Regions from separate parts of the Homo sapiens genome. Here region 1 is linked to region 2. The links come from fine-mapping of genetic effects on gene expression. Tissue or cell type: whole blood. Region 2 holds a variant in brackets; the other region holds the start of a gene. All regions are shown on one strand. Distances are from middle to middle.

The links. PIP is the estimated chance that this variant, and not a neighbour inherited with it, causes the effect.
Region 1: CPEB4 starts here. The variant in region 2 is fine-mapped to the expression of CPEB4 in whole blood (INTERVAL, PIP above 0.99).

The regions. Positions count from the first base shown.
Region 1 is chr5:173,885,836-173,890,835 of GRCh38, reverse strand. It overlaps CPEB4 (cytoplasmic polyadenylation element binding protein 4), which reads right to left and starts at 2,487. Exons shown (of 10, transcript NM_030627.4): 1 at 1-2,487. The coding sequence starts at 1,102. RefSeq lists a silencer at 1-210 and enhancers at 1-214, 215-716, 2,741-2,980.
Region 2 is chr5:173,833,840-173,838,839 of GRCh38, reverse strand. No RefSeq gene overlaps it. Among named protein-coding and RNA genes, the nearest start is that of LINC01485, 45 kb to the right of the region's middle. RefSeq lists a silencer at 2,840-3,134. The variant A/C (reference allele first, on the strand shown) is at 1,972.

The sequences.
Region 1 (5,000 bases), 52 kb before region 2:
CCCTGTTCAAGCTATCTTCCATCCAGGATTTAGGTGCAAAGGCAGAGCTGGGGCGAGCATACTTCTGGAGCTGAATATGATTGCTTGCAAAATTTTTCTTCAAAGGCGAGATGGAGTTCAGGGGCGTTATTCCACCATTCAGCCCTCTGCGGTGATCTCGGCCTTGGGAACCTCCCCAGCCACCATATCCACCACCGCCCGGGCTCCAGGAAGAGGAGGGTGTTGGTGACGGACTCTGGTAGCTGCTCCACGGAGAGGGGGGTTTGTTAAGATTATTCGCCAAATGAGGCAGCTGGTTAAAAGCAGCATTTCTATGTGTGAAGGGTGGGGGATGGGGACTGGCAGGAGACCTCCTTTGCTGCTGATGCTGGCTGTGATGATGCTGGAAATGAGGGTGATGTGGGTGGTGCTGTGAGAGAGGCCCGATCTGAGGAGAGAAGCTGCCTCCAAAGCCAGGGCTGACATGATGGGGGAAATTTTGAAACAACAGAGCACCGTTATTAGCCGAAGCAGCAGGGACCCCTCCCTGGTGAAAGAAACTTGCATCTTCATTGATTATTGTAGAGGAGGAAGGCGCTATCGCTGCTGACCAGTTACTGAAACCAGTAAGAGACGATGCGCTAGATGTCAAGGGTTGGGTTGAAGTACCTAGCCCAGTGGCTTCTTGATAATCAAACCCTGTCAACACTGGAGATTCGATCCTTATTTTCTCCTTCCCATTGCCATTTTCCGAAGAATTGTCCCCTTGATTTTCTTCTGATTTTGCCTTCTCTGTTTCAGGCAGTATTCCAGCTTCCTGACCTGGACTTGGGGAAAGCTGCTGCTTTTCTAAGGGGTCTTGCTGTTCCTGTTGCTGACTTTTTGCTTTTTCTGACCCCAAGATCTCATCCTGAATGTTATGGGTAGCTGGAGCAGGAAAAAGCCAAGCTGACCCAGCACTGCTGCCATTGGCAGCTGTGTTATTATTTATAAAAGCAGCAGGGCTGGGGGTGGCATTTTGGTGATGGTGTGGAGGCTGCAGATGTGGATGGAATCTGACTGGAAAAGCAGATTTATTCCCAGTATTGCTTTGCACTAGCACTCCAAACCCGTAATCCCCCATTTATTATCTTTAGGAGCAGAATCTCACAATAAAAAATGACAACCTGATGTCTCACGCCTTTTTTTTCCTCTACCCCAAATTTAAGTTGTTTGCTTGCTTGCTTGAAATGTCTTATTTATAGCTAGCTCAAAGATCGCAGCTTATCACCTTAAATTGTTCTGATTTGGAATTCTGGTCTCTGAAAGAAAAAACAACTCTTAAAAAAATCTCTTAAAACATTGACTTGGATCCAATTGGGCTTATTTTTAGGAGGGAATAAAAATGAAGAGGGTAAAAATCAAGTCTTTGGTTAGTAAAATAGGCGCTTTCTTTTTCCAAAGGAAAATGTACATGAATGACAAAAACAGAGCTTCTCAAGCATCTATGGATGTAGAAGAATAAGCCTTGCGCGGAGTAAAAATATAGATATATATAATTTAACAATCACATATGGTTTTCCTCAGCAGTTTAGATTCACTCACATAAAAATTAGAATAGGACTAAGAGGGGAATACGTTCTTTTCTTGGCAGCTTGGTTAAAAAAAAATCAGGAATAATTTAAGAACATTATATATTATATATTTATATATATAGATTATATTAGGTTATCTGGGGTGGGAAGTGAATTCCTGGTTTCGGGAGAGGAAATCAGCATTGACTAATGGAAAGATGATTGCAGGGAGGTTTCTGCTGTTCCTGGTCCTGTTTTCTGCTCTTTCGCAGGGTGCAGTTTTGGCCTCTGGGGCTGTTCCTGAGGCTCCGGGTGCAGATCTTGCTGCGGTCGCTGTTCCTGGGCTCCCCGCGGCTTCCTCTCCCCCATGAAAGGGGTTGGAAACACCCGTTTCTCCCTCTTGCGGGGGTCGCGATCAGGAGGGATTAGCGAGACTCGACGAGGGTGAGCGGGCGGCCTGGGGGTGCGGGGACCGAGGGGGCGACCTGGAAGGTCCTGCGGTTTCTGCCTCTTCCCCTCTCTGCGGCTCCGGGGTTTTTTTCCCTCATGGGACCCAGGGGCGGTTTGTTCAGTTCCCTCAGTTCGATTCTCCGCAGAGAGGGAAAAAAGAGGAAAAAAAGGAAAAACCCACTACCGTAGTTATTTTAAAGGAGAAGGGCCTCCCCCCTCGGCTTTCTCTCTCTTTTCCCCCAGAATTTTTTTTTAAACTATAATTTAGAAGGCTTTTGTTTCTCCTCACGGTTGCTGGGCCGTCGCCGCCGTCGCCGCTTTACCCTGGTCCCGCAGTCCCCGCTGTCGTTGTTGAGGACTCCTCCTGGTTCTTCTTTTTCTTTCCTTCTTCCTCCTCTTCCTCCTCTGCTGTCGCCGCTGCTGCCGCCGCCGCCGCCGCCACCGCCTCCCGGTGCCCGGGTCCCGCAGCCGCGGCTGAGTCCTTCTCCTCAGGACCGAGCCGAGTGAAATGACAACCAGCTGGAAAGACCCAGAGACACTTCCGGTTCGAAGAGGGAGGGGTGGGGGTAGCACTCATTCCCCACCTACCTGCCGGAAGACCAATCATCTGTTAGAACTCAGGCGAGGCCACGCCCCCTCGCTTCAGAGCTACTCCCAGGAAGGTCGAAAAGTTACCTCCAGAGACGCCTCTTCCGTCTGCGCCTCGCCTAGTGAGGCCCGGCGCCTGGAACCCGCTTCCCCCACCCAGAGTGAGCGCAGCAGGTCGCCATCTTTTGTGTGGGCAAGGGACTCCTTTGATATTTCTCTTCCCTAACTGGGCTTTGCAGGAGGAGCAATAGGGACGTGTCAAGGAGAACGGATTCCTCGCTCACGAAGGCATACGGTCAAGGTGTTGGAGATCGAAGTGGCGGCCCGTGAAACCGCGGATGAATGAGAAGGGTGCCCACAGTAAAGGTGGTGCTCCAAGCATCACGTGCTCTGGCCCGAGCTCCGCCCCAGAGGGATCTGGAAGGGGAGGCGGGTCTTGCCAGCAGCTGTGCGGTGCCTAGAACTGCGTTTGCCCTTGCCCAGAATGTAGACCTCACGAGGGACTCTCCCTTAACCTTCCATTCGCTCACCCGCACCTCCCACTCTCCCATTCTGCTAGGCTCGCATCTGGTGCAGTCTCCCAGGTGCAGAGATGCAGCTGAGGCGTCTGTGGCTATGCCCCCGTATCATCCCGATCTAGTACACCTTACACGCAATACCAGAGGGAAAATTCCAAAACTAAAATTTTATCTTGACCCTCACATGCTCCGATTTCTTCTATGGTTGCCCATTATTTCGAAGATAAAGGCCAAACTTGTTAGTCTGGTATTCAAGCCTTTCTACCTAATGGGTGGTATATCTTAGTGCCTCTTCCCCCTCCAAACACACTCTCAATGCCTTTTTACATGTCCTTTCCACTCTTCTCCTTTGGTAAATTCCTATTTATTTCTAGGAATCAGTTCAAAAGCCACCAACAGCATCTTCTGAATTCTCTCTTATAAGCGTCCACGGCCCTGTGTACCTCTCGTGCTTGTTTCTCACACTATATTGTGATGGTTTATGTCTTCCAGACCTGTGCTGGACCGTGGGCTCTTTCAGGAGCAGACATTGTAGATAGGAGACATCAGTGAATGAATCCTGAAAACGTGAATGAACAAACCAGCAACAATGAAGTCTTCCCTGAGTGACAGCCCCCCAACCCACTGCCACCCCTTCCACCCGTCACCCACCCCCCACCCCTCACTCCTGTTTCCAAGTCTGAATTAATTATTTCCTTCCTTTTGCCATTTGGTTTGGAGCTCACATATCAGACTTTTCATTATGTTTGGTACTCAAGGGCTTTAATGTCCTGTTTATCTTTGTACATTCCCAACGCTATGACCACCATCAGGGCTTAGGATAATGCTTTGCTCTCAGCACAGCTTTAAATATGTTAAATAAGTGAGTATTTTCCTTTAGCAGGAAGAAAAATGAACAAAGAAATCAGGGTAGAGCCAGAAGTAACTGGCACAACTAGAGGGAAAAAAAAGATACCAAGATTAATGAAAAATAGTATGAACAAAGGTGGCTTCCATTTCATTTCCATAGCCTTCCTCTAATGGTCTCAACTTCTGCCTCAGTCTGTCAATCCTCCATCACTTCCGTGTAGAACACCTGAGGGCCTTCAATCGGTGATTTTATTCTCTTTCATTGTGCCATGAGCATGAGTCTTGTCTCTGTAACTCTACTATGGATTCTTTGAGCATAGAGATTGGGTCTTACCTGCTGTTTATTCCCTACAACTGGACATGCCTGGAAACTTAGCTGGTTCCGTCAGGTGTCTTTTCCGCCAGAATGGTTTCCTTGACTGGCCCTCTCTCTAATGTCTTGTAGATTGCTCTCTTTTAATTACTGCTGGTTGTCAGTGGGTTAGTTTCTTAAGGGCAGAGGTTGTGTCTGATTTATCTTTATGTCCCCAGTGGCCAGAAGAGGGTCTGGCACAGAGCAGACTCAAAACTCAGAACACATTTATTGAATGAACAAATGAATGTTCCATGCCCAGAAGATGGTTTAGGGTCCCTCAGAGCTACTAATTATCAGTGGCTAAAATGGCAGCCATGACTTGGAAAAAAGAGCACCTTTGGAACCAAACAGCCCTGAATTTGAATCCCAGCTCTGCTGCTTCCTAGCTGTGCAAAACTGGGCATCACCTCTATAAGCCCTTGGTTCCTTCTAGATAAAATGTGAATGATATTTCCTCTCTTGCTAAGTTTGTAAATTACATGGGATACATGTGAAGTGCTGGACTCCTAAAAAGTTTTATTAGTCCATTTTCACACTGCTATAAAGAAATGCCCAAGACTGGGTAATTTATAAAGGAAAGAGGTTTAATTGACTCACAGTTCCACGTGACTGGGGAAGCCTCAGGAAACTTACAATCATGCCGGAAGGCGAAGGGGAAGCAAGCACTTTCTTCACAAGGCGGCAGGAGAGACCAGAGTGAAAGAAGAA
Region 2 (5,000 bases):
CTCGCTCTGTCACTCAGGCTGGTGTGCAGTGGCACGATCTCAGCTCACTGCAACATCTGCCTCCCGGGTTCAAGCAATTCTCTGCCTCATCCTCCTGAGTAGCTGGGATTACAGGTGCCCACCACCACACCAAGCTAATTTTTGTATTTTTAGTAGAGATGGGATTTCACCATCTTGGCCAGGCTGGTCTTGAACTCCTGACCTTGTGATCCACCCGCCTCAGCCTCCCAAAGTGCTGGGATTACAGGTGTGAGCCACTGTGCCCTACCCAGAAGTAAAACTTTCTTTGGCACCTGAATTGGAAATGACTTACATTTTTTTAACATGAGATAATCCTATTTATTTTTAAAAACATAAGTATACATAGACAGAAAATTTTGAGTAAATACACCAAATCATTGATTACAACTATTTAGGTAGTAGGATGAGAATGTTAGTGACATATTACTTTCTCAGTGATCTTATGAATTTTCTAAATTTTCTGGAATACATGGTTATTGAATTTTTTTTTTTTTTGTATTTTATATATTCAGGCTAGAGTGCAATGGCATGATCAGAGCTCACTGCAGGCTTGAACTCCTGGGCTCAAGCAATCTTCCTTCTTTAGCTTACCAAATAGCTGGGACTACAAACACATGTCATCATGCCTGGCTAAGTTGATTTTTTTTTTTTTTTTTTTTTTTTTTGTAGATTCTTGCTATGTTGACCAGGTCTTGAACTTCTGGCTTCAAGTGATCCTCCTGCCTCGGCCTCCCAAAGCACTGGGATTACAGATGTGAGCCACTGTGCCTCGCCCGGATGTTGAATATATAATCAGAAAACTACAATGAGTTTTTTCCAGTTTTTAAATTTGTGGTAAATATGCATAACATAAAATTTTACTACCTTAACTGTGTTTAATATATACAGTTTAGTGCCATTAAATATATTCATAGTATTGTGCAACCATCACCACCATCCATGTCCATAATTCTTTTCATTCCGTAAAACTGAAACTATGTACCCATTAAACTAGAACTCCCCATTTCCACCTCCCTCCAGCTGCTGACAACCACCATTCTGCTTTCTGTCTCTGTGATTTCTGGTACCTCTAAGTACCTCATCATGGGTTTTTATATAGGGAGAAATAAGTGATGTCATGTGCATTTTCCAGTTTAAAAAATAGAAATCAGTGGTAACAAAGACATTCCTGAGACTGGGTAATTTATAAAGAAAAAGAGGTTTAATGGACTCACAGTTCCAGGTGGCTGGGAAGGCCTCACAATCATGGCGGAAGGCAGGTCTTACATGGCGGCAGGCAGGGAGAATGAGAGCCAAGTGAAAGCAGAAACCCCTTATAAAACCAACAGATCTCATGAGACTTATTCACTACCACAAGAACTGTATGGGGGTAACCGCCCCCATGATTCAATTATCTCCCACTGATTCCCTCCCACAACACATGGGAATTATGGGAGCCGCAGTGCAAGATCAGATTTGGGTGGGGACACAGCCAAACCCTATCAGTGGTGTTAGTGATCATTTTATAGGAGGAGTAATTTTTTTATTAAGAAAGGGAGACAGGACTGGGCACAGTGGCTCACGCCTGTAATCCCAGCACTTTGGGAGGCCGAGGCGGGTGGATCACGAGGTCAGGAGAGCGAGACCATCCTGACTAACACAGTGAAACCCTGTCTCTACTAAAAATACAAAAAAAATTAGCCAGGCGTGGTGGCGGGCGCTTGTAGTCCCAGCTACTCGGGAGGCTGAGGCAGGAGAATGGGTGAACCCGGGAGGCAGAGCTTGCAGTGAGCCAAGATTGTGCCACTGCACCCCAGCCTGGGTGACAGAGCAAGACTCTGTCTCAAAAAAAAAAAAAAAAAAAAGAAAGGGAGACAAAAAGTGGAAGGACTGGGCTACTTATATATCAGCAACATGTGTTTGAATTTTGGGGTATAAATTAATTAAGCCAATAATCATGAGTTTAAAATC[A/C]ACTCTTCCTCTCAGTAGAACAATGAATAAAAAGAGCTACAATTTACTTAGTCTTTAGGAGGGTGTGTGCCAGGCACTTGACTAAGCATGGACAGAAATGAGTGCAGCCCTCCTCCAGCCCTGAGAGGTAGGGTTCTTCTCCTATTGAGAGATGGGTTTAGCTAGCTCCTGTGCTGTGTTGGAGTTACACAGCTCTTCACACTGGTCCTTCTGACCCCAGATTCCTGGCCCAGTGCACGACGGGACTCTTCCACTCTTGGGACAGCCTGCTAAGTGTGCTGAGGATATCGGTAATGGTGGCAAACCATTGTGTTTCAAACCAAACCAAAAAGGAGGAATCTTGCAGGAGGTTCCATCCCAGGATAAATGCAAAAATATGTCCAGATCAATTTCAGGAGGAGAAACTGATCAGTCCACCAAGATGTAGCAGATTACTACAATGTGGTGGCTTTTTATTCAGAAAAAAAAAAATAAAACCTACTACTGTTAGGGGGCATATATGCCTTACCTTGCTTGCAGGAGGGAGGACAATCTCGCTGATAAGCCCTGGGTAGCCAGGCTGTTCAGCAGGTCCCCCCAGCCCCTGTTTTTTTGTTTTTGGCTTTGTCTACATGGCACCACAACACTGGCCTCACTAGAAGACATAGTGAAAAGTGTTGTTGTTGGGAGAAAATAGCCACAGGGTGCTCTATGTCTCTGTTAACACTTCATTGTAAACATGGGTTGTGGATTTAGAAAGTATTGAATTCAGGTTCTGACGCTTTTCTCAGTAGATTCCTGTGGCAAGCTACTAACCCCCTCTAATAATAATAGTGCTGACAGCATAGGATTATTGTGAGGGTGAAGTGAGATGCTGGTTGTCAGGGGTTTTGCCCCATGTCTGGCACACAGCAAGAGCTTAAAAGGTGAGAGTTATAATTATTCACTAGCTTAGATTACAGGCCATCCCTCAACCAGTCATGCCGGCCAGGCGATGTCATGCTCTGATTGGGCAGCCCTGGGTCACAGTTGCATTCTGAAAAGATGATACTGTTGCATGGACTAGGTATTGCAGGAAGGCAAGGGCGTGGACAGTGACTAGGAGATATTGCAGGCATTCAAACAAGAGATGATGTGGCTTGAAAGAGGGGAGCGACTGTGGTGCCAGAGATGAGGGCCACGCATTGTGCTTCTGGAAAGCTGTAGGGAGTAAGTCGTGAGTTCTCCTTCGGTGCCCCAGTAGCCCTGCTGCTTCTTCTCCATGGGAACAGGGAAGGAGGAAAACACTAAGTATCAAAGGTAGAGGAACACATACCATCAGGCTAGCTTTCCTGTACCAGATCAGGCCACCAACATTGCCCTTCTTGGCATCTTGGATTTCTAAGAAAATGCAACCCCATGGAGGGAGGGCATATTGTTAAGCCAGAAATAGGCTCAAGAGCACACTGCCAGCCATGCGAACCACACGCCACAACCAGCCCTTTATTCATGGGGTGCTGGGAACTATCTTCCTCAAGCCTCTACAACCCATCCTTGATTGCAAGCAAGTCCCTGGGTTTCAAAACAGGAAGTAGGCCAACTTGAGTTGCTCTTCTTCCTGGCAGCTTCCCTTCCTGGCAGCTCCTCCTCCAGACAAAGAAAGAGGCAGATGTTTTGCAAAGAGCAAGACGACACTCTTCATGGAGCTCTGGGGCAGGAGACAAGATGTACAATGGCACAGGACAGGGGACCTGAGTAGAGGACAGCATGGCAAGGCTGAGGCATGGACCAGCACCTCTGTATGAGGCACACCTGGAATTGATAAAGCAAGTATCATACAAGATGGAGAGGGACGTGTCTCTCATTTGACAGGCTTTGAGTTAGAACAGTCAGGATTCACATCTCAGTCTGACTCCAAAGGCCCAGACTTTCTTAGTCAACCACTTGATTGTTTTCACCTGCATAATACCTCATGACTCCAGCTGATATTTTTCCCACTGGGTTGGATGAACCAGTGGGAGAGCAATCAGAGACCATTGGCATCCATTGCCAGGAGAAAAGAATGGCCTTGTAGCTAGCTGTCTATACACTTATATGCATGTACTTTGCATATTGCAGAACATAATGAAAATGTTAGGGCTTATCACTATGAGCAGTTCTACCATTTATCATACTGATTCCTCTCTAAATTAGGACAGTCTAATTTCCCTGAAGTCAGAAAGCACCTCTATCAGTTTCATCCTGTTCATCCAAAGGATGGTACCCCATCAGAATCTCACACATGGCAGTTCATTGTATATTGCTTTAAACAGAAATAAATTGAATTATGCGCTTTATCTGTGCTCCACAGTTCTTCGGAATTTAAATGATTGCCTCATCAACGTTAAAGAGCTTTTCAGAAGCGAACACTTTCTCTAAACTCTGAAGTGATTGGTAAACATTAGTTTCAAGGAGTGTTAAGGCCATGATATTGGGTCTTAATACACAGGGGCACATTTCTCAGAAGGAGACTAAGACATGCGTGACGGTGCTGTGTCCAAGACACCCATTGTGCCTCCCAGTTTGACTTTGACAAGAGTCTGACCAACACCCAAAGCCCTCCTCAGCTTAAACTAAGGCTTGTCTTGCCAGAAACCAAAGTTCCCAGCCATTAATCAATGTCTAGTCCCTACCAGGCTGAGAATAGACTCCTTGCCTGTAAAGACATTCAAGGAAGCTGCCAGTGGCTTCTGGTAATCGCCAGTGTGAGTGGGAAAGACATAAACTATCAGCAGGTTGGGGGGAGAAATGGAACATGAGGGGCTACTGTTTTTGGCTTCATGCAAAGCAGGGTGTAATTTTTCAGAAAAAAATAAAATAGTGAAACACGAAGAACATAAGAAGGTCAGTGTCACTTCCTAGTTCACCCTGAGTTAGACTTCAAACAGTGAGTCCTTGTTTTCCGTCTTTTCTATGGGGCAAGATGTGATTGCAACTGAAGTACATTGATTAACCCAAAATAACTTTCCCTCAATTTGCTGGATGCCTAGGAATACTCCGGAGACCCTGCTTTTGTTTTGAGTTAGCCATTT